Linked DNA regions of Homo sapiens. The protein of the gene in region 2 purifies or fractionates together with the protein of the main gene of each other region. This does not show direct contact. Each region holds a gene or a part of one and is shown on either strand. Other genes may lie near its edges.

Region 1 (6,175 bases), on a different chromosome or scaffold from region 2:
AGGAGGGACAGTCACAATTGAGTAGACTGAGAGGAGGCGTGAGGGGCTGGACCAGAGGGCCAGGAGGGAGCGAGGCGTGATGGGGTGAGGGCCCCCCTCCCAGCGCCTGGAGATGGGGAGGAGTGGAATAGGCTGTGGGTAGCAGCTGCTGCGAGTCTCCACCCCGACCAAAGCAGCTGCTCCTCCTGTGCCCAGGCCCAGCCCATGCTCTGTGGCCATGCACCTAGCAGGCACCTAGCGGGACAGTGGCGTCTGCTTCAGGGACATGAGCACCGAGCGCAGGCGGGACACATCTTTGCACTGCTTGCTGCTCTTGGGGTTGAAGTCACATAGCTGGGCCACCTTCTCCCACTCTGTGCCTGGGGTCTCCTCCTTGGATTCCTTCACGAAAGCCTCCTCGGATGCCCTGCGGGTGGAGATAGGACGGGCTTTTATAGCAGTCTGCTTTCCCCCAGCCTTGCCCTTGAGCAAGGCTGCTTTGCCCAGCCTACTCTGGGGCACTGTGTCCTCCCCAGCCTTGTGCCCCCCTGACTTCAGAGGAGGGCAGCCTTGGCGCAGGAGGAAGCCTAGCTTGGTCCTGCCTCAGGACCTTGGCACTTGCTATCACCTCTTCCTGGAACACGCTTCTCCCAGACCTGTTCCTGGCTTGCTGCTTCTTGTCATTCAGGTCTCAGTGCGGGCCTCACCTCCTCAGAAAGTCTTCCCAGCCTAGGCACCCTCTGTTCATTACTTCCCCATCGGGAGTTCCCAACCTGAGGTTCCTGACACCTAAAGACCCTTGGAGGTCCTAGGACGACCTAATGCAGGACCTTAGCTATTTCACCATTTCCAAAAACTTGGCAGAAGTAGGACACTGACTAACCATCTAACAGAAGCACCTAGTTCAGCATTGCCTGAATGTTCTGTGTGAGGATTCTCCAGAAAGACTGTGGTCAAATACCTATGGAAAACCCAGCTAAAGAGGATCTTTACAGCAAGACTTTCAAAGCCTTTCATGTGCTGTGTGCGTCGTGACCCTCCAAGGTGTGTATGTGATGGAATCCACCACATCCCAAGCGTCTTTCACCACAGAGCCCTTTGTAGCCCAGAACCACCACTGTCTCTGAGGAGCCACAGCCTGGGGCATGAATGCTCCACTGGAGTCTGCTTTTGGTTGGAATCAAGTTAGGATGAAAACTGGCGGTCCTTCATCAGAAGTTCTGGTTGACAGTCACAGAAGCCACTGACTAAGGGACAGTGGGGAAACAAGTAAATACAGTCTAGTGGACAAAATCTACACGTGGGACTCACTAACAGAAAGACAATAAGGGATTCTTAGGTGAGGAGAGCTGGGTCTATGTCCTGTTTGGCCAGCGAGGGTCGCTCACAAGTCCCTGGAAGCCCCCTCTCCATCTCAAGCAGGACCAGTTCTGCCGATGCCAGACATGACTGATGGCAGGAGCGCTCCATGGAAGAGCTGACCCCGGATCAGGTGACCTGGCCCCTCTCTAGGGATGCTGGCTGTATGCTCATTTCCTAGCCTGTAAAATGAGGATCATAGCTCTGCCCTACCAACTATTTCACTGGACTGAGAATTCAATGAGGTAGCAAGCAGGTCTGGAAAAAAGGAAAGTGCTGCGTGGAGCTGGGTGGCAAGTGGGGATGAGGGGAGCTATCCTCGGAGCTGTCCCTTCAGGGTCCAGAGGCTCCCCTCTGTCCTTGCAGCTCAAAGCGTCCATGGTCCAATGGCATCAGCATGACGACAGAGCCTGTCAGAAATGCAGACCCTTGGGCCTCCCCACCGTCCTGCTGAATCAGAATCAGGGTTTTCACGAGACCCCCTGGTAATTCATAGGCATGTGAAAGTTTGAGCCTGGGCGCAGTGGCTCACTCCTGTAATCCCAGCACTTTGGGAGGCAGAGGCGGGTGGATCACTTGAGGTCAGGAGTTCGAGACCTGCCTGGCCAACATGGTGAAACCCCATCTCTACTAAAAATACAAAAAATTAGCTGGGTGTGGCCAGGCGCGGTGGCTCATGCCTGTAATCCCAGCACTTTGGGAGGCCAAGGTGGGCGGATCACGAGGTCAGATGGAGAGCATCCTGGCTAACACGGTGAAACCCCGTCTCTACTAAAAAATACACAAAATTAGCCGGGCATGGTGGCGGGCACCTGTAGTCCCAGCTACTCAGGAGGCCGAGGCAGAAGAATTGCTTGAGCCCAGGAGGCGGAGGTTGCAGTGAGCTGAGATCATGCCACTGCACTCCAGCCTGGGTGACAGAGCAAGACTCCGTCTTAAAAAAAAAAAAAAGTTTGAGAAGCCCTGGTCTATACTCTCTCTTCAGGGCTCTCCTGGGTGCTCTCTGGGCCATTTCCTCAGGCTCAACAGAAGCATCGAGCCCCCTGTGGTATTCCACAGCACCCATGCCCATCTGACATCCCCATCCCTTGCTGGAAGCCTCCTGTGGCTCCCCACTGCCTTCTGGATCAAGTCTGAGCTCAGCCTTGGCACAACAGGCGCTTTGCAACCAGCCCCAAGCCAACCACCTCCCAGCCTCAGCTCCCACCCATCCCCACCATCCCCACCATCCCCACCATCCCAGCCTGTAGAGCTTCAGCCACTGCAGCCAGCTGGGCCTTTTCTCTCTGGATGCCTTGGCCCCAGCTGCTCCTCCCACCTTCTCTTCCCACCCTCCCTATCCAGCAAACTCCTTCTCACACTTTAAGGTCAGCTGAAGGTCTTGCATCTCTGAAGCCTGCCCAGGCTCCCCAGGCAGAGAGTGGCTTCCAGAGCTCACTGTGTCCTTCCACAAGGCCCTTATCATAACACACTCCAGACCATGAGCACGGTGAGGGGGGCGGCCTGTGGGTGTCTTACCAATCTGGCACAAGGCGAGTGCCAAAGAGTACTAAATGAGGGAGAGTGGAAGGAAGCAGACGAAGGCTCTGGTGTGCTCTGTGCCCTGTGAGAGGAGGCTTAGCCTCGACACATGACGGGCTGCCAGGGCACACCTAGAGTGAAGAACAGCAAGTACCTTCTCTTCAGCTCCACAATCCCCACCACCACCCTCCAGGATGTCTCTACCAACTAACTGACGTCGGCACGAGATATAACCTGTTTGCCAACCCTGGTCTTGATTACTCATCACACCAAGTAGACCCCAAACCTGAAACATGTGAGGGGGCCTGTGGTGGTCTGGGCAGGGGCTGATGGCCAAAGTCAGTGCACTGGGGCAGGAGGAAGAGATGGATGTCACAAAGGAGCAGCTCTTGTCCTTTACATGCCTCCAGCATCCCATGCTCAGTGTCTGTTTTGTTGAATAAAAGACCCCTTCAGCTGGGTGTGGTGGCTCATGCCTGTAATCCCAGCACTTTGGGAGGCCGAGGTGGGTGGATCACCTGAGGTCAGGAGTTCGAGACCAGCCTGGCCGACATGGTGAAACCCCGTCTCTACTAAAAATACAAAAGTTAGCCGGGCACGGTTGCATGTGCCTATAATCTCAGCTACTCGGGAGGCTGAGGCAGGAGAATCGCTTGAACCCAGGAGGTGGAGGTCGCAGTGAGCCGAGATCGCAGCACTGCACTCCATCCTGAGCAGCAAGAGCGAAACTCCATCTCAAAAAACAAAAAACCCTTCACCCCACACACCCACCAAGAGACATCACAGAGGGAGGGAGTTGGGGTGCTCTGCCATTTGCCCCTCCCACATGGGAATAAGTGGCAAGCACATTCCTTTCTCTGCCTTTATCCTGCAAGGCTCTGATTTAGCCAAGCAGCCTCCACTTCACTGGAGGGAGGGAGGTGGTTGCTGCCTGCACCCACCAGGGCATTTGCCTCCTGTTCTGACCATTGCTCCGAGCCCAGCCACACTCATTTATATCCCACAAGCAGGAAACTCAAGAAACTGTGGTGGCCATTCCCTCTCTAGCTCCCCCAACAGAGAAGCAAAACAGACACGTACACGTAGCCGATGATATCAGCATCTGGCTGCTGGTAGAATGCTTTGTCAGCGATCCTTGAGGGAAAGGTTGAGGGAAGGGGTTAGGTGGGGGAAGGCAGATGGCAAGACAGACAGGCAGGCAGAAGGTTAGAGAGAGAGAGAGAGACAGCATTAGTACCTCCAGTGGGAGAAATGTTAGGAAGCATAGTTCTGGAAGGCTCAGCAACGACCCACAGCCCCAAACAGGAGAATGGGGACCTTCACCCTGGCCCCAGCACCTTCTCTAAAATTCATCCCTGATCATGTTACTCCTGTTCAAACACCTTCAGTGGCTCCCCACTGCCCATGTCACTGCCCAACTCATCAGCCAAGGCCCTTACAGTGTGAGTCCACAGGTTCCTGCCTTCTCTCCCACCGCTCCCTGGCCCCCTGTTGCCTAATACATCACATTTTTTTCTTCGTACCCAGGTCTAGAATGCCCCCCTACCTCCTGCCCTTTTTTCCCTTTTTTCCTCCTAGTCATCTTCCAAAGCCCAAGTCCCAAGACACAGAGGTCTCTCCCTGACCTGTTTCCTTGCTTCCATGGCCTTCGTGCAGAGGGCCCTACTGTATTTGAGCTTAGTTGAACATGTGTGTTTTTCTCCTCTGCGCCCTTTGAGGACATAAGGCTGGGTCCTCCTTATCTCCATCTCCTCCGTGCCTACCCCAGAGCCTGGCATGCAGCAGTTCCCTAGACAGAAGGGTAGCTTCCCAGAACAGGCCTTTCCCTTCCTGGAAGACCTTGTACCGTGAAGGACAGAGCCTCAAAGGCAGGGAGCACTGGGCAGTGTTCAGTCATGTCCCCACAGCCCCTCTCATGTCCCCATAGCCCCTCTCATGTCCCCACAGCCCCTCTCATGTCCCCACAGCTCCCTCTCATGTCCCCACAGCTCCCTCTCATGTCCCCACAGCCCCTCTCATGTCCCCACAGCTCCCTCATGTCCCCACAGCCCGTCTCATGTCCCCACGGCCCCCTCATGTCCCCACAGCTCCCTCATGTCCCCACCCCTTCATGTCCCCATGGCCCCCTCATGTCCCCACGGCCCCCTCATGTCCCCACAGCCCCCCTCATGTCCCCATGGCCCCCTCATGTCCCTACAGCCCTCTCACCGGTTGTTGATCTTGTTCTTCTCTACTTGTTCACTCTGGCGCTGGTTCCACTCCTCCAGGTCCTTCTTGGCCTTCTCCCGCCATTCCTGTTCCGTGACCTTAGATGCAGCATCTAGGACCCCACAAGAGAATGAGTGGCTGCTTTCCAGCTGGGATGCACAGGCCCGGCCGCGCTCCTCCCCTGGCCCCTGCCAGGCAGCCACAGGGCCGCACCGGCCCAGTCCCACATTAAGGCATGCAGCATCCCATGCACTCCGAGGACTCCCCACACTCCACCCCACACACAGCCCACCCAGCCAACCCCGCCTCAGCCCCGCCCTCACCCAGCTCTTGCAGCCGTTTCCTCTGCTCCTCTCGCCACTTGCGGATGCTCTCAGGCTCCTGGGTCAGCCTGTCAGCCTGGGCAATGGCTGCGTAGCCATCAGCAGGACCGTTGGCCTCCTAGAACACAAACACGCAGCAGTCTATCCAGCCAGCACACCTGCCCCGCTGTCTCTGCTGCCCCTGCTGGGGACCCACTCATGTCTGGATAACTCAGCCTCAAACAACCTCATACCCACTGTCTCTGGTGACTACACCTATCTTTGCACTTGCTGTTCCCTCTGCCAGCAACACTCCGCCACCTGTGTGACTGCGGGCAAGTTACTCACCCTCTCTGTGCCTGATCATTGCCTCTGGCCCAGTTATAGGTTTTGATACCCCCAAAGCAGAAGACTCAAGAAAGCGTGTGCCAGCCACTTTCTTTGTCATAAAATGGGCTAAATAACAGTATGCACTCTGATGGGAGGACATAAGGATGAAATGAGTTAAAAATTATAAAGAATGTCGGGCGCAGTGGCTCACACCTGTAATCCCAACACTTTGGGAGGCCGAGGCGGCAAATCACCTGAGGTTGGGAGTTCAAGACCAGCCTGACCAACATGGAGAAATCCCGACTCTACTAAAAATACAAAAAATTAGCCAGGCGTGGTGGTGCATGCCTGTAATCCCAGCTACTCCGGAGGCTGAGGCAGGAGAATCACTTGAACCCGGGAGGCAGAGGTTGCAGTGAGCCGAGATCACACCATTGCACTCCAGCCTGGGCAACAAGAGCAAAACCCCGTCTCAA
Region 2 (6,175 bases):
TTACCTACAACAGGTCCATTTTCTTTTCTAGATGCTCGAGGTTTTGAAATAGTTTTGTTCATGATCTGTAATATCTCCTTTTTTGCCACTAGAAGAGAAAAACACAAAAATTATAACTACATAAAACAAATATGATCTGAAATACTGTACTCTTAGTTTTCACGGTATACAATCTAAACCCTGTAGCTTAATAATTGAAGCTTTCCACATCCCTATTACCTTGAAAATTCACTCATATTCTCTTCTCCAAAAATCCCATCTTAAATAGAGTTGTTTAATTTGTAAAAATTGAAATTTCACTGGTAACCCACTTTGGCGTGTATTCATGTGTCCCAAAAACTTAGTTGTGCTTCTTCTTTTTTTAAAATAGATATGGGATCTCACTACGTTGCCCAGGCTGGTCTTGAACTCCTGGGGCTCAAGCAATCTTCCTGCCTTGGCCTCCCAAAGTGCTAGGATGAGCCACCATGCCATGCCTGGCTACTTAGTACTTCTTTTTTTTTGAGACATTTTCCCTCTGTCACCCAGGCTGGCGCGCAATGGCATGATCTCGGCTCACTGTAACCTCTGCCTCCTGGGCTCAAGCGATTCTCTTGTCTCAGCCTCCTGAGTAGCTGGGATTACAGGTATGCACCACCATGCCCGGCTAATTTTTGTACTTTTAGTAGAGACAGGGTTTCACCATGTTGGCCAGGCTGGTCTCGAACTCCTGACCTGAAGTGATCTGCCTGCCTCGGCCTCTCAAAGTGCTGGGATTACAGACATGAGCCACCACACCTGGCCAGTACTTCTTGATCTAAGTTATATGAAATTCCACTTTTTAAAGCAATATTTTATAATAAGCCTAATGAGAACTATAGTTCCCATTAGCAAAGTGGAAAAGAATGAAGGGAGAATCAAGCACACTAGCTCACCTGAAGCTTGTTGAATAGCCTCCATCACAATTTTTATTGGTATTCCAGGTAATTTAATATCAGCCTAATATGGAAAAGTCAAACAATTATATAAATATTGACTCATGGCATTATTTAAATGTTACAAAAATGAAACAAAATGGGTTTTAAAAATACCTGTAATGCAGTTATTCCTTTATTAGTGCCAGCTATTTTGAAGTCCATGTCACCATTGTAATCTTCAATTCCCTTCAGGAATTTAAAAAGTTATGACATAGTTTTAAACAAAAACAAAAGTCAACATATTCACTGTAGAAACATTTCAAAAAACAGCTTTAGAAGTAAACCATATCCTAAGTCCAAACACAAAGCAATGTTTTCTACATTAACTACCACTTCCAATTTGTGACTTTTTAAGCTACAATTATTTTCACCAGAAACATCATTTTATTTTTAGATCATTCCTTTCCCTCATAAATGCCTGAGAATGAATTTATGCTCATCCTAAAGTGAGTCATTATGAATACTTACACTGTGTAAGTATTACTGCAATACTTAAGGGTAAGTATTACTATTTTTTTAAAGTAATCATTTTATTTTATTTTATTTTACTTATTTTGAGACACAGTCTTGCTCTGTTGCCCAGGATGGAGTGCAGTGGCACGATCTTGGCTCACTGCAACCTCTGCCTCCCGGGTTCAAGCAATTCTGCCTCAGCCTGCCAAGTAGATGGGATTACAGGTGTGTGCCACCATGCCCAGGCTAATTTTTGTATTTTTAGTAGAGATGGAGTTTTGCCACATTAGCCAGACTGGTCTGGAACTCCTGACTTCCCAAAGTGCTGGGATTACAGGCATGAGTCACTGTGCCTGGCCTATTACTATTAATATAATATCTATTTTAAATTCATATCCTATAAGATACAAGGTGAACATGCAGAGGAGGAAGGGAAGAACAAGTACCTGTTCTTCAAATACTAGCATTCTTCTAAGCATACGCTAGGTGCAAAGTACATATAGTCTTCACCATTATTTGTTTTTATCTTTTAATTTTTATTTATTTATTTTTAGTCTTCATTATTAAATATTTGAAACCGAGAATATACTTGCCAAAATATCTGTCAGCAAACGATAATCTTCTATTTCACCCTTCTCAGGATCGGTTTTGGTGACCAATCCTATTGCTACGCCTGCAACAGCAGATGAAATTGGAACCCCTATAATTGGGAAAAAGAACAACTGTGGGTAATGTGTACATGAGCCTAAAACAAATATTTATCTATCAATTTTTTTTTTTTTTTGAGAGGGAGTCTCGGTCTGTTGCCCAGACTGGAGTGCAGTGGCATGATCTTGGCTCACTGTAGCCTCTGCTTCCTGGGTTCAAGCAATCCTCCCACCTCAGCCTCCCCTATAGCTGGGATTATAGGCACCCGCCAACACGCCTAGCTAATTTGCTTGTATTTTTAGTGGAGATGGGGTTTCAACCATGTTGGCCCTGTTGGTCTTGAACTCCTGACCTCAGGTGATCTGCCAGCCTCAGCCTCCCAAAGCGCTGGGATTACAAGCGTGAGCCACCGCGCCCAGCAGACATTTACTTTTAATGTAAGTGGATATTGTTGCCTAAATTGACAATCACCGAAGCTGAGTTGGAAGTCTTAAGAGGTCATCTGACTACTTCGTTTGTTTTTGAACATATAATAAAGTTCCCTAAAACAATGTAAACAAGTACTATATCCAGCAAAAACTTCTCTAACAATAGCAAACTTTATAACTTTTAAATTATCCGTTGGTTTGCTTTTTTGCTTCAGGTGTCTTATTTTCTTTTTGTTGGAAAGTAAGCATCTATTTGGTAAATTCTTCCAGCCTGAACTCCTCAGTTTACCTCCCCATGGCAGCTAACATTAGTGTATCCTCCTAGAAAATTTCTGTGCACAAGTATAAATGTAAATATAATCTTTTGTTTTCTTTACTCGTGGCGGCAGACTGTATGCATTTACTGTTCTGCACCTTGCCTTTTTCACTTAATAACATGTCTTGGATATTGACACATACCACCACACAAAGCTCTACTTTATTCCTTTGAATAGTTTTAGTACTCCCTGTATGTTTTACAAGTCACACACAGAAGTGCGATTGCTGAGTCAAAAGGTATGTGCATTTACGTTTGTTAGACTGTCAAACTGCCTTCTAAAGACATAGCATTTTAAACTTTTACCAGTGGTGTAAGAAGGTATATGCTACTCTATATTCTTATTAATTCTTGTCAAATCTTTTGATTTTTCTCAATTTAAAGTGTAAAAAATGGTTATTTTAAATCTGACTTGTTTTTTATGACTGAGGTTGAAAACTATTTCATGTTCATAAACCTATTTATATGTCTTATTTTGAGAACTCCCTGTTCATGGCCTTCAACACTTTTCTACTTGGTTGGCAGTCTTTTTATTACTGATTTTCTTTCAATATGGACAGAGCTTTATTAAAATGTAAAGATAAAATATTATGTTTAATAACATATAAATAAAATATTTTATTTCCTAGTTCGTTGACTTTGCTTATGGTCATTAGTTTTCTGTGTAGGATTTTTAGTTTACGTAATCATGGTTTCTGGGTTTTGCTTAGCAGAGCTTTTCTTCTCCAAGATTTTGATAAAACCTACCATCTTTCATTTGTTTAAAAATGTTTAAGTTTTGATCACTTGGAATTTACTTTGGTATAAAGGAGTGTGGATCTCATTTCATTTTCTCTAAGCAACCTCATCTATACTTACGATTTTAACCACCATCTATAATGTTGATGACTTAAAAATCTATCCCTCCTGTCCAGCTATCTGTGCCAAACCCTGGACCTGTATTAGTAAACTCCCTGTCAGACATCTCCAGCTAAATGTCCCCAAAGCACCTTAAATATATATTCAAAATTGAGCCAGGCCCAGTGGCTCATGCTTGTAATCCCAACGCTTTGGCAGGCCAAGATGGGAGGATCACTTGAACTCAGGAATTTGAGACCAGCCTGGGCAATATATTGAGACCTCATCTCTATAAATAATAATAATGATGATGATGAAAGAAATACATATATGTTCAAAATTGAATCACTGTCAAAAAATCCTTTTCCTCCTGCATTCTTTGGTTGAAAGCAACTAAGACACTCATGCCAGAATCAACATTTCTTTCCTCATTTCCTATATCCCATCAAGTCACAAAGATCTGTTTATTTTTTTAGAAAGCTGTCCTTTACCCTAAATATTAAAATACCTATTGTAACTTTTTAGTCTGAGTCCATATCATTTCTTGCCCTGGCAACAATCTCCCTGTCTGGCTTCCCAGATTTTACTTTCTCTCTTTGCTTCTTAGTCTCTCCCATCTCATTCCGCAGGGCTATTCATCACTTAAGCTGGGAAAAACTGTTTGGAAAAAACAAAAGCAGATTCAAATCATGCCACTGTTTTCCATAAAATCCTTCAAGTTCCCCATTGCCTACTTTCAGGAAATTTTTGTACATATTCTGTGGTCAAATAAATTTGGAAAAATATTACATGTCCTATTCCTAGAGAGTCAGTATTCGGATTAGCTTATTAAAGTCTATTTAATCCATATTAAATAAACCTGCTTAACCCTGCTGAAACTTAACTTTAGAACAGAATAAACTTTTTCATGGTATACAATAATCAATGTCCTGTGGAACACTATTCCATGGAATACTGAATTGGAAAAATGCTGGCTTTAAGTCCAAACTCCTTAGCGTAACAATAACCTTCAGATTGTACAATGTGTGGCTTTCTTGAGGCACTGCCTCTCGAGTCCCTACCTCAAACTCCACTTCAAATAGGAGATTTTATGTTGGGGAAAGAAGGATTGGTAAAGAATTCTTACTTAAAAAAAATCCTGCCCTCTCTCCCTCTCTCCACCTCTACCTCTACCTCTACCTCTACCTCTACCCACGGTCTCCCTCTCCCTCTCTCCATGGTTTCCCTCTGATGCCGAGCTGAAGCTGGACGGTACTGCTGCCTGATTCTCCTGCCTCAGCCTGCCGACTGCCTGCGATTGCAGGCGCGCGCCGCCACGCCTGACTGGTTTTCGTATTTTTTTGGTGGAGACGGGGTTTCGCTGTGTTGGCTGGGCTGGTCTCCAGCTCCTAACTGCGAGTGATCCGCTAGCCTCGGCATCCTGAGGTGCCGGGATTGCAGACGGAGTCTCGTTCACTCCATGCTCAATGGTGCCCAGGCTGGAGTGCAGTGGCGTGATCTCAGCTCGCTACAACCTTCACCTCCCAGCAGCCTGCCTTGGCCTCCCAAAGTGCCGAGATTGCAGCCTCTGCCCGGCCGCCACCCCGTCTAGGAAGTGAGGAGCGCCTCTTCCCGGCCGCCATCCCATCTGGGAAGTGAGGAGCGTCTCTGCCCGGCCGCCCATCGTCTGAGATGTGGGGAGCACCTCTGCCCTGCCGCCCCGTCCGGGATGTGAGGAGCGTCTCTGCCCGGCCGCCCCGTCTGAGAAGTGAGGAGACCCTCCGCCCGGCAACCGCCCAGTCTGAGAAGTGAGGAGCCCCTCCGCCCGGCAGCCGCGCCGTCTGAGAAGTGAGAAGCCCCTCCGCCCAGCAGCCACCCCGTCTGGGAAGTGAGGAGCGTCTCTGCCCGGCAGCCACCTCGTCCGGCAGGGAGGTGGGGGGGTCAGCCCCCCGCCCGGCCAGCCGCCCCGTCCGGGAGGGAGGTGGGGGGATCAGCCCCCCGCCCGGCCAGCCGCCCCGTCCGGGAGGTGAGGGGCGCCTCTGCCCGGCCGCCCCTACTGGGAAGTGAGGAGCCCCTCTGCCTGGCCGGCCGCCCCGTCCAGGAGGGAGGTGGGGGGGTCAGCCCCCCCGCCCAGCCAGCCGCCCCGTCCGGGAGGTGAGGGGCGCCTCTGCCCGGCCGCCCCTACTGGGAAGTGAGGAGCCCCTCTGCCCGGCCAGCCGCCCCGTCTGGGAGGTGAGGGGCGCCTCTGCCCGGCCGCCCCTACTGGGAAGTGAGGAGCCCCTCTGCCCGGCCACCACCCCGTCTGGGAGGTGTGCCCAACAGCTCATTGAGAACGGGCCATGATGACAATGGCGGTTTTGTGGAATAGAAAGGGGGGAAAGGTGGGGAAAAGATTGAGAAATCGGATGGTTGCCGTGTCTGTGTAGAAAGAGGTAGACGTGGGAGACTTTTCATTTTGTTCTGTACTAAGAAAAATTCTTCTGCCTTGGGATCCTGTTGATCTGTGACCTTACCCCCAACCCTGTGCTCTCTGAAACATGTGCTGTGTCCACTCAGGG
Region 3 (6,175 bases), on a different chromosome or scaffold from region 2:
GGCACAAAAGGATTTATTTTATTTTATTTTTTGAGAGAGTTTCGCTCTTGTCATCCAGGCTGGAGCACAGTGGCGTGATCTCACTCACTGTAACCTCCACTTCCCAGATTCAAGTGATTCTCCTGCCTCAGTGTCCCAAGTAGCTGGGACTACAGGCACCTGCCACCATGCCCAGCTAATTTTTCTATTTTTAGTAGAGACAGGGTTTCACCATGTTGGCCAGGGTGGTTTTGAACTTCTAACCTCAGGTGATCCACCCACCTCGGCTTCCCAAAGTGCTGCGATTACAGGCGTGAAACACTGCACCAAGCAAAAAAAGATTTAAAATGAAAATTAAGTCTCTTTCCCACTATTCCCAGGCACTCAGTTCTTCACTCAGGAGGCAGCATTGTTAACAGTTTCTTATGAGTCTTTTCAGAAATAACCTGTGCATATACAAGCACATATGCATATATAATGGTCTTTAAAAAGCTAAATAGTGGAATACCAAGTACATAAAATAGTGCTGATAAATAGCAGGTACTCAATAAACATTTGTAGATGAATGAATAAATTATTCCAAATCTTGCTTTTTTACTCAATATATCTTAGATTTCTTTCCATAGCACTATGTGTAGAACTGCCTCTTTATTTTTCCACAATTGCATTCTATACCATTGTATGACTATATCATAATTTAATTGATTGATCTCATCTTGATAGAATCTTATTTTGTTTATAATCTTTTGTCTTAGGAATAATGTTGCAAGAAAAAAACATTCAACACTTCTTCAGGCATACAGTTAAGTGTATCCAAATGAGAAATTTCTAGATGAGAGCTTTCCAGGCAAAGATAATCTGTATTTTTAATTTTGATAAACACCATAAATTTGCTTTCCACAGAGGTTGCACCAACTTAAAATTTTTCCCATTAATACACGAATAACTATTTCCCTGTATCCTTATAAATACATTGTCAAAGTTGAAAAAGTTTCTTTTTTATTTTGAGATGGAGTTTCACTCTTGTTGCCCAGGCTGGAGTGCAATGGCGTGATCTTGGCTCACTGTAACCTCCACCTCCTTGGGTTCAAGCAATTCTCCTGCCTCAGCCTCCAAGAAACTGGGATTACAGGCATGTGCCACCATGCCAGGCTAATTTTGAGTTTTTAATAGCGACTACATTCGTCAGGCTGGTCTTGAACTCCTGAACTCAGGTGATCCACCTGCCTCGGCCTCCCAAAGTGCTGGATTACAAGCGTGAGCCACTGTGCCCGGTCGAAAAAATTTTATAATAAAATCTGGTAGGTTAAAAATAAAATCTCATTTTAGCTTTAACGTACATTTTCTTACTCTGAGTAAAGTTGAACATTTTTTTCTCACGTTAAAATATTTTTTTCTATGTGAACTTTATTTATGACTCTTGGCTATTTTAAAAATTGGGTTATTCATCTTACTTTTATTTATCTGTAGGAGCTTTACATTTATTGAAGAACTTCGACCTCTGTCTATTGTATGCATTAATATTTTTCTTTAGTTTGTAGTTTGGTTTTTGGTATTATAATTTTTATGGCATTTTATAAATTTACCAATTTTTTCTTCTGTGGTTTTTCTTTTTTTCTTTTTTTTTTGTAGACACAGAGTCTCTCTATATTGCCCAGGCTGGTCAGGAACTCCATGGCTCAAGTAATCGTCCCACCTAGGCCTCCAAAGTGACTGAGTATTTTTGGTCATACTTAGGCCTGTTAAACCAAAACTATACAAATTTTTCCTGCATTTTCTTTAAGAACTTTCATATATTCATATTTAGTATTTGACTCATTTGGAGTTTAATTTTCTCAGAAATAAGGTAGAAACCCAACCTGGGTGTTTTCTCAGTTTTCCCAGCATCATTAATCAGTTTTATCCCCACTTATATGAAATGCCACTTTTTTCACATACCAAATTCCTATATGAATTGAATCTATTCTGATTGCCTGTTTTAAGTTCCATCAATCAGTCTGTGTATCCATAAGCCTGTCATATATGTGATTATAGTAGCTATATAACATGCATATTATCTGATGGGGTAGTTCCTTCTTTCCCTTCCCAGAATTTTCTTAGCTTTTCATATAACTTTCCTGTTAAACTTCAGACTCTATTTGTATATTACCCCAAAACAAACAAATAATATCCTGATAGAATTTATTAGGGTCCTTTAAAATATACAGACTGGTAGAAGAGTTGCATCTTTCTAATATTTAATCTTCCCATCCAAAAATAAAGAATGCATTTTCACTTAAAAGCCTGCCTTCATATCCCTCAGTAATACTCACAAATTTCTTCAATTATGTTGTACATTCCTTCTAAAGTACATGCCAAGGTCAGGTGCGGTGGCTCAAGCCTGTATCCCAGCACTTTGGGAGGCTGAGGCAGGCAGATCACCTGAGGTCGGAAGTTCAAGACCAGCCTGACCAACATGGAGAAACCCTGTTAGCCACTAAAAATATAAAATTAGCCAGGTGTGGTGGCACATGCCTATAATCCCAACTACTCGGGAGGCTGAGGCAGGAGAATCGCTTGAACCTGAGAGGGAGGTTGCAGTGAGCCAAGATCACACCATTGCACTCTAGCCTGGGCAACAACAGTGAAAACTCTGTCTCAAAAAAAAAAAAACAAAAATAAAAATTAAAATTAAAAAAAAGGATATGCCTACTTATTTTTTCTTTTTTGTTGCTACTGTATATGAGGTATTTTCTTCCATCACTGTTTATAATAATTTTTAGTCATTCTGTTGGGTGTTTTAAACATACAATCAAATCATCTGTAAACAATGATATTTTACTTTTTTTTTTTTTTTTTTTCATGAGACAGGGTCTTACCCTGTCGCTCAGGCTGGAGTGCAGTGGCGCCATCTCAGCTCACTGTAGCCTTGACCTTCCAGGCTCAAGCGATCTTCCCACCTTTGCCTCTCGAGTAGCTGGGACTACAGGTGCATGCCACCGTAACCAAATAATTTTTTTTTTTATTTGTAGAGATGCGGTTTCACCATGTTGCCCAGACTGGTCTCAAACTCTTGAGCTCAAGCAATACACCTGCCTTAGCCTTCCAAAGTGCTAGGATTAACAACGGCCTACCTTTTCTTTTCCAATGATAAATATTTTTTTTCTCTTACTTAAGTGCATAGTTTGCATCCTTTTCCAGGTCCTGACATTAACAGGAATGCTTACGCTTTTTCCCTATTAAGTATCAAGTTGGCTTTTGAGTTGAGACATATTTTGTCATGTTATGTTAAGGAAATAACCATCTAATCCTACAATATTAAGAGTTTTAAAAAACTCAGACAAAACTTTGTATTTTCTTCTCAATGCCTGCTGATGTTTTAAGTATCATTAATTTGTACAAAAATAATTTTTATAAACACTATTAAGGGCTGGACACAGTGACTGATGCCTATAATCCCAGCACTTTAGGAGGCTGAGGCAGGAAGATCTCTCGAGGCCAGGAGTTCAAGACCAGGCTGAGCAACATAACGAGACCCAGTCTCTACAAAAAATTTAAAAATTAGCCAGCTGCAGTGGTGTTATGTGTGCAGTCCCAGCTACTCAGGAAGCTGAGGCAGGAGAATTGCTTGAGCCACTGCAAAAATATTAAGTAATCACTTAACTATTTAAATTAGTGCCCTTTTCAAATAAAAACAAAAACAAGAATGAAGATTTATCACTACTTCTTTATAAGGAATCTAATTCTTACCTAAAATATGGCCAATGGGACAGTGACATTTTCCTTCGGCAGTTAAGTCACTAGGGCAAGAAATGCAGTTCCAGCCATCTTCTGTAACACCTTTCTAAATTAAAAGAAAAAAAATGCTTTTCTCTTTTTTAATTAACTTTCTTCTTCTAATCATGTAAGTTCAAAATGCCATAAGAGTATGTAACTACAGTGAATATTCAAATAAATCATACATATATGAGCCACATAAAAATTCCCTGGAGAGATAATTCATGCTTATATTCCAAAATGAAGCTCTATATTATCACTATGTCCTGAAAACTATTAAAGGATTAACTCCGGATAATAGTTCTCTCTTCTTCAGGATCTTTAATTCAAATGGATGCCTCTTTCATAATTATTTGTCATTTCGTTTTTCCATTTACAAATATAAAACACAACACAACACAAAAAGATTGAATCAACGGTCAGTTAATAGGTTAATCTTACCTGTTCTAAAACTCTATTCTAATTTTTAAAAATTCAAATACCTAAAAAATTTAGTCCAGGCACAGTGGCTCACGTCTGTAATTCCAGCACTTTGGGAGGCCAAGGTGGGTGGATCACTTGAGGCCAAAGCTTGAGGCCAGCCTGGCCAATGTGGTGAAACCTCGTCTCTACTAAAAATACAAAAATTAGCTGGGCGTGGTGGTGTATGCCTATAATCCTACTTGGGAGGCTGAGGCACCAGAATGGCTTGAACCAGAAAGGTGGAGGTTGCAGTGAGCTGAGATCGTGCCACTGCACTCCAGCCTGAGCAACAGTAATACTCTCTTTCAAAAAAAAAAAAAATTCATTTATGATTCAAAATGGGTAAATTTTATGAAATATATAAATTATACACATAGTTGTTAAAATTGATTTATGAGAATATTTTCTTCTATCCATTTATGGCTTGTACTAGTAAAGGTTTTTTTTTTTTTGAGACAGAGTCTTTGCTCTGTTGCCAGGCTGGAGTGCAGTGGCACAATCTCGGCTCACTGCAAGCTCTGCCTCCCAGGTTCAAACAATTCTCCTGCCTCAGCCTCCCGAGTAGCTGGGACTACAGGCACGTGCCACCACGTCCAGCTAATTTTTGTATTTTTAGTAGAGATGGGGTTTCACCACATTTGCCAGGATGGTCTTGATCTCTTGACCTCGTGATCCACCTGCCTCAGCCTCCCAAAGTGCTGGGATTACAGGCGTGAGCCACCGCGCCCGGCCTAGTAAAGGTTTTTGATAAAGTATGACAGCATTCAAAATTGGGCTTATTATATCATATGGTTTAGGAAAAGCCTGGGGCAAAAAACACAATAATTACAAACACAGATGTAACCAAAGTTTATAAAGAACAAAAATAATGCCACAAATTATTTTAAATTTTGGTTGAAAAGACTGAATTTATCAAGAAATACTCCTATATTTGGCAATACATTTATACAGGACAATTTATTTATTTATTTATTTATTTATTTATTTATTTATTTATATTTTATTTATTTTTTTGAGACAGAGTCTCGCTCTGTCACCCAGGCTGGAGTGCAATGGTGCAATCTTGGCTTACTGCAACCTCTGCCTCCTGAGTTCAAGCGATTCTCTTGCCTCAGCCTCCCAAGCAGCTGGGACTACAGGCACGCGCCACCACAGCCAGCTCATTTTTGTATTTTTAGTAGAGATGGGGTTTCACCATATTGGCCAGGCTGGTCTCAAACTCCTGAGCTCATGATCCACCAGGCTCAGCCTCCCAAACTGCTGGGATTACAGGCATGAGCCACTGTGCCTGGCCTATACAGGACAATTTAAAAATTACAATAACTTAAACAATGTCACTGAAAAAGAAATCTGCTGCGAGACCACTTTTTATTAGCAGCTTTTTATCATGGGTAATTCAGCTAGGATCAATATTTGCAAAGATATAAAATAAATGGTAATCTATTATAATCTATTATAAAGATATAAAATAAATGGTAATATAAAAAGTGGTAATCAGACTTACAAGTAATACAGATAGCTATAAATTGGGACAATTGATAACTTCACATTAAATTCCCAGAATTAATATTTTTTATATGACAATGAGAAGAAACATTACTGTAAATGTCACAACTGTTACACAGACTTTTAATTATCCAACATGATTGAAAAATATATTTATGTTGAGAATTATATATAGTAACTATTTACTAATTTTTTTTAAATTACGATACAATGAAATTACTAACAAAACAGAAACAGACATTATTTAATCTATTAATGCAATTGGTATTTCATGAAATAATTACACCTTAGATATCATTATGAACATCAATAATCATATAAACTGTTGACATGGTAGGTCTAAGACAACTCCACTTGCATCAGTCAAAAGAATATACACATCCCAAATTGCACACATCCCAGACTGCTCTATATATGCCTTATTCATCTAATTTTCTTCATAACCGAGTTATTCTACGAGTAAAAACAAAAA
Region 4 (6,175 bases), on a different chromosome or scaffold from region 2:
TTGAAACCATGTCAATGTTTTGCCTAGACAAAATCAACAAGGATGGGAGGAAAACCCTAAAATTGAATACAAACAGAAACAAAGGAATCAAACCATGTTTCAAGTGAATAACATAACCACACTCTAACAGAGAAGAGGAGAATTAACCTAAGTAACTTCTGAATATAGTATTCAAACTAAAGACAAAAAAAACTCTAAGCAAGTGCTGAGCTCTAATTAGTAAGATTGTTTTTTTCAAAGGTATGGCTTTGCAATTCTGAACTACTTTCTAAGCATTACAGGGTTTAACACATAAGAAAATATATTGTGAATAAAATGGAAGTCAAGAGTTACAAATTTGGAAAGGGAAAATAAATCCTCTGTGGTATGGAACTGTAACTGGAAGTATAAATAGAGACCCACACCCACACACACTCTTATCTAGATATCCATGCACATATATACACATACATGTTCATATATCTACATTCACAAAAAATCATACACTCATGTTCATTGTTTTTTCATCTAAGCAATCTTAGCCTTACGACTCATATAATTAGACCTGAAGAAATGCAATTTCCAAATTTCTATATCTAAATTTAGAATATATTGGCTATGCCATCTATAGTGTAGGAAAGTGTTACCATAGGAACATCTATTAGAAAAGATGGCTTTTAAACAGAATAGCCAGGCTAATATTTGAAGAGAAAAAATTTACTCATATATGTGACTGGATCACGAAAACAGGAAAAATATAATATTAATCCTAGTAAATATTTAAATGTACCCATCTCAGATTATTTTCATGTTAGTAAGAGTAATCATATTATCTCTTATAAAAGTTGCAAAGATGCAAATGTTACCTGGTATTTCACAATGAAATGTATTAAAAACCACTGTACCTTACAGTAAAATCATACGAGCAAGAGGCCAGCACAGAAGCATGAAATGGTGAAAACTACAAAAAAAAAAAGAAAAAAAAAACCCTTTTTGAAGTCAGCTGTGATTATAACACTGCTTTCTATGATCATTCCATAAACATTATAATAAATTTAAGTTGAGTCAGAGCTGTCACTTAAAATTATGCTTTTTCAAAGCATATATGCTATAATTTGAGGCAAAAATCTTCTGGCCTTATAAGTATCCATCTTCAGGAAAAATATTTTTACATTCTCCAAAGAAAATTATCCCTCAAGCTTTTTAGAACTTATTTAGAATAAAATATTCCCAAAATGTTGCTATTCTGGAAAAATTAAATACAATTTCATATTGGCTATCCAAAAATGATTCTTACAGGCCAGATGCAGCAGCTCACACCTGTAATCCCAGCACCTTGGGAGGCTCAGGAGGGCAGATCACCTCAGGTCAGGAGCTCGAGACCAGCCTGGCCAACATGGTGAAACCCCGCCTGTACTAAAAATACAAAAGTTAGATGGGCATGGTGGCACATATGCCTATAATCTCAGCTTCTGGGGAAGCTGAAGCAGGTGAATTGCTTTAACCCAGAAGGTGGAGGTTGCAGTGAGCCGAGATCATGCCACTGCACTCCAGCCCCGGCGACAGAGAGAGACTCTGGCTCAAAAAAAGCAAAAGCAAACAAAGTAATAAACAAAAATGATTCTTACAAATATAAGGGATTTAAGTATATAAGAGTACAAATATATAATTATATAATTTACCAATTTTACAAATATATGATTGCTATAATCACGTTATCAAAATAAACATTTAAATGTTAAATAAAAACACCCTTAAGTTATTTTTACGTTATTTGTATATTACAGCTAATGGAAAATTATATCAAGGGTAAAAAGCAAGTTTAAAGACAAGTAACGTCTTCTAGATGAGTAATAATGTACTTAATAAGTTGACCTTTGCAATTACATTTCTTCAGTGTTTGTCTTATCGCACTTTAATAGTTAAATACACATATATAACTACATTTGACCAGCACTTAGTTTGCAAAGTACTTTCACTACATTACCTTATTTCATTCTCATAATCACTCTAAAATATACATAGAGCATATTTTTCAACTGCTAAAACTTGTCCAATTAAACAAATTTATTAAAAAATAAAACAGAGCACTGTGTCTCCTATGTTGCATTGCAGCCAGAGAAACTTAAAATATTAACTTAACTAAAAATTTAGAATTTTTGGCCAGGCACAGTGACTCAGCCTGTAATCCCAGCACTGTGGAAGGCTAAGGCAGGCAGATCACTTGAGGTCAGGAGTTCAAGACCAGCCTGGCCAACACTGTGAAACCCTGTCTCCACTAAAAATACAAAAAAATTAGCCGGGCATGGTGGTGCACACCTGTAGTCCCAGCTACTCAGTAGGCTGAGGCAGGAGAACAGCTTGAACCCAGAAGGCAGAGGTTGCAGTGAGCTGAGATCGTGTCTGGGTGACAGGGCAAGACTCCATCTCAAAAAAAAAGAAAAAAAAATTTAGAATTTTTTAAATAGTAGGAATAACATAATTACCTTATTAAAATAATCAATAAGGTACTTTTTTATCCTTAACGTAAAAAAACAAAAGGATGAAATTGGGAGATGTCACTTAATAAGATGTTTTCCACAGTCATTTAGCAGAACCTGCCTAAATATAAAAGCCAGGAAACCAACCTAAGTCATCTTATAACCCAGATAAATTTACTGAGACCATCATTAAAAATTTACCTCATCCTCTGCTGTTCACAGAGTAGAAAACTTTCTATATCCCAAACATCTGTGAACAGTCATGTATGTTATCATGTTAGGAAAAAGAAAGAATTAACCATCTCTTTACATCTGTTTCAACAAAGTAGAGACTCTCGCTAATTAGAAACTTATAAAGAACATAATACTAAAAGTGAATTACTATAGTTAAAAAAATATATTAAAGGAAAAACAGATTGGAGGTGAAAGAATGAGAAAAAGATTTTTATTTAACCTTAAGTATTGAATGTCTACATTGCCCAAATTCATTCAATCATTATTCAAATATTTTTGCCTAATTTTAGCTTTCACTACTAATTAATTGGGTAACAAAAACACATATAAAAAAGAATTAGTAACTCCAATCCCTAAACCCAGAACACTTTTTAATATACACTTCATTGATTATATTTATATAATTTTATTCTACATATAAAAGAAAAGATGAAAACTTACTTTCACCCTCCTAATAGCATAGGTATGACCAAGAAGTTCAAACACTGGTTGTCGTACATTCCTTAAGTCCCAGCCTCTCAAACTACAGTCAACCGCCCCGGTCACCAGCAAATTCTAAAAACAATTCAGAGAAACATAAACTGTGACATCTTTGCAATTAAACAGTATGCAGGCTTTCCTACTAGAAACAACATCTGCTTTCTGATAACTATTTAATATGAACCAAGGAGTCATTTTTGAGAAGTTGTATAACAAGTATAGACAGGAATCAACATAGACATTAATAGCAAAAAACTAATATGACTTGTGAGAAAAAGAACTCAATATGCTTTATGTACACGATGGAACACTACAGACAGCTGGAAAAGGCATAGTTCCAAACAGCATTGTGGATTTTCTAATTCAGCTTTAGAAGCGGCAGTAAATACATAGGGGATTAAAAATTTTATCTGACAAATGAGCCCAGCTTTCTCTTCAAAAGGTTTTCCCTGGAATTCCAGCACCTTGGGAGGCAAAGGTGGGAGGATCACTTGAGGCCAGGAACTTGAGACCAGCATGGACAATAAAGCAAGACCCTGTCTACCCAAAAAATTAGCCAGGCGTGGTAACACACACCTGTAATTTTAGCTACTTGAGAGGCTGAGTGAGGCAGGAGGATTGTGTGAGCCCAAGAGTCAGAGGCTACAGTGTGGTATGATCACCCCACTGTACCTCAGCCTGGATGACACAGCGAGACCCTGTCTCTAAAAAAAAAATAAAAATTTAAAAAAGGTTTTCAAGGCTGGGTGCGGTGGTTCACTCCTATAATCCCAGCACTTTGGGAGGCCAAGGCCGGTGGATCACTTGAGCCCAGGAGTTTGAGACCAGCCTGGGCAACAGTGAGACCTCATCTCTAAAAAACAAACAAACAAAAAGGGTTTCAACATACTCTGAGGTTTTTCCAGGCATTAAAAGGCAAGAGGTCTGTTCATTTAGGCACATCTGAAAAAGCAAAGGCTATGAATTAAATTTTTCCATGTTCTCTAAATCTAAATTAATCATTGTTTCCAACTCTCTTGGACCAAAATTCTTAATACGATATCTAATCATATCCAAGAATGTAATCAAATAGTGGTGAGTCTCTTATCTATTCCGGCTTTACAAATTCTGCTATCTAGAGCCCCAAGTGAACCCAGAGGTCCTGGCTGAATAGGACAAGTGCTGGGTCCACACTCAGTCCACCCCACATAACTCAGAACAGCAATGGATTTAAGTTGGCGCAAAAGTAGTTGCAGTTTTTGCCATTGAAAGTAATGGCAAAAACTGCAACTACTCTTGCACCAACCTAACATTGTCTGACTATGTTGGGCTTTAGTTTAAGCTAATTTGAAGAAAAGTTTCAGTTATTAGAAAATAATTTTTGTAAATCACTCTCAAATGTCTATCAGCATCTTTCTTTAGAGTTCCCAAACATCTAACATACAGGCCATAATTAATTTTCCAATATGAAACATTCATTTATGAGTTTGAAACTATAGTCATCAGCATTGAAATGTTTAGATTGAGTAATATCATTGTATATATACTATATTTTAACTTATTTTACTTATTTTTATTTAAAGAACTCTGCCAATACAATGTTCTTTTAACTTTAATTAATTTAAAACTGGGAAAAAAACAAAGCATACATTTTACCTATTTGTCACGGTCAACAGACCACTTCAGGGACATAAATACAGTCATGCATCACTTAATGATGGGGATATGCTCTCAGAAATGTGGCATTAGGCAATTTCATCTTTGCGTGAACATCACAGAGTGTACTTACACAAACCTAGGTGGTACAGCCTAGTACACACCCAGGCTAGATGAAACAGCCTATTGCTCCTAGGCTACATGCCTGTCCAGCATGTTACTGTACTGAATACTGTAGGCTACTGTAACACAATTGTAAGGCTTTCTGTATCTAAACATAGAAAAGGTATAGTAAAAATATAGTATGGAAGATAAAAAATGGTAGTAGGGTCCTTACCATGAATGGAGCTTACAAAACTGGAAATTACTCTGGGTGAGTCAGTGAGTGAATGAGTAGTGAGTGAATGGAAAGGCCTAGAACATTACTGTACACTAAATTTATTTTTTATTTCCTTTCTTCAATAATAAATTAACCTTAGCTCACTGTAATTTTTTGCTTCATAAACTTTCTAATTTTTTTTAAAGTTTTTTGTTGTTGTTGTTGTTGTTGTTTTGAGATGGAGTCTTGCTCTGTTGCCAGGCTGGAGTGCAGTGGCGTGATCTTGGCTCACTGCAGCCTCTGCCTCCCAGTTCAAGCGATTCCCCTGCCTCAGCCTCCCGAGTAGCTGGGACTACAGGCGCCTGCCACCATGCCTGGCTTTTTTTACTTTTTGACTCTTCATAATAACAAAACTTAAAATATAAACACATTGTAGAGCTATACAAAAATATTTTCTTTCTTTATATCCTTAGTTTATAAGCTTTTTTCTATTTAATTTTTTTTTTTACTTTTTAAACTCTTTTTTTAAAAACTGAGACGCACACATATTAGTTTAGGACTACACTGAGTCAGGATTATCAATATCACTGTCTTCTACCTTCACATCTTGTCCTGCTGGAAGGTTTTCGGGGGCAATAGGAATTTTTCAGCTCCATTATATCTTACGGGCCCTGTCACATATGCAATCTGTCACTGGCTGAAATGTTGTTATGCAGTGCATGACTGTAGTATATTAACACATATTTAATCCATTTCTATCTCTGATTCATACGCTCATGTGGTTAACTGAAGCTTTAAAAAAGTTGCACATGGACACTTATCTTACAGAGGCATGAAAATTGGTTAGGCTTAAAAAGGAAGATAAAACAGAAAAATTTAAAAACTGATGGACTGTCAAATTAAAAATCAAATTACAATAGTTCAACAGCCTGACTAGCAAAGTGAGAAAGAAATAAAAGCAAAAGATGATACAAAATTGCAGGGTTAAGAGCAATAAAGAAAAAAATTACATAAGGCAGCTTCCCAAAACAAACAAGTAAGCCTGCAC

The links.
Region 1: the proteins of PNPT1 (region 2) and CLTB fractionate together in Homo sapiens (co-fractionation; one large-scale study listed by BioGRID). This does not show direct contact.
Region 3: the proteins of PNPT1 (region 2) and TMEM67 fractionate together in Homo sapiens (co-fractionation; one large-scale study listed by BioGRID). This does not show direct contact.
Region 4: the proteins of PNPT1 (region 2) and PEX7 purify together in Homo sapiens (co-immunoprecipitation; one large-scale study listed by IntAct). This does not show direct contact.

What each region holds. Positions count from the first base shown.
Region 1 is NC_000005.10:176,392,540-176,398,714, forward strand, and holds part of CLTB (clathrin light chain B), read right to left. Parts: intron 5,509-6,175; coding exon 5,391-5,508; intron 5,180-5,390; coding exon 5,068-5,179; intron 3,994-5,067; coding exon 3,940-3,993; intron 407-3,939; coding exon 235-406; 3' UTR 1-234. UniProt on the Homo sapiens protein: Clathrin is the major protein of the polyhedral coat of coated pits and vesicles.
Region 2 is NC_000002.12:55,645,345-55,651,519, forward strand, and holds part of PNPT1 (polyribonucleotide nucleotidyltransferase 1, mitochondrial precursor), read right to left. Parts: intron 2,110-6,175; coding exon 2,003-2,109; exon of another isoform or gene 1,929-2,002; intron 1,143-1,928; coding exon 1,071-1,142; intron 979-1,070; coding exon 915-978; intron 89-914; coding exon 5-88; intron 1-4. UniProt on the Homo sapiens protein: RNA-binding protein implicated in numerous RNA metabolic processes. Catalyzes the phosphorolysis of single-stranded polyribonucleotides processively in the 3'-to-5' direction. Mitochondrial intermembrane factor with RNA-processing exoribonulease activity.
Region 3 is NC_000008.11:93,756,110-93,762,284, reverse strand, and holds part of TMEM67 (meckelin isoform 1 precursor), read right to left. Parts: intron 3,803-6,175; coding exon 3,709-3,802; intron 2,426-3,708; coding exon of another isoform or gene 2,292-2,425; intron 1-2,291. UniProt on the Homo sapiens protein: Required for ciliary structure and function. Part of the tectonic-like complex which is required for tissue-specific ciliogenesis and may regulate ciliary membrane composition.
Region 4 is NC_000006.12:136,866,963-136,873,137, reverse strand, and holds part of PEX7 (peroxisomal biogenesis factor 7), read right to left. Parts: intron 3,249-6,175; coding exon 3,135-3,248; intron 941-3,134; coding exon 885-940; intron 1-884. UniProt on the Homo sapiens protein: Receptor required for the peroxisomal import of proteins containing a C-terminal PTS2-type peroxisomal targeting signal. Specifically binds to cargo proteins containing a PTS2 peroxisomal targeting signal in the cytosol.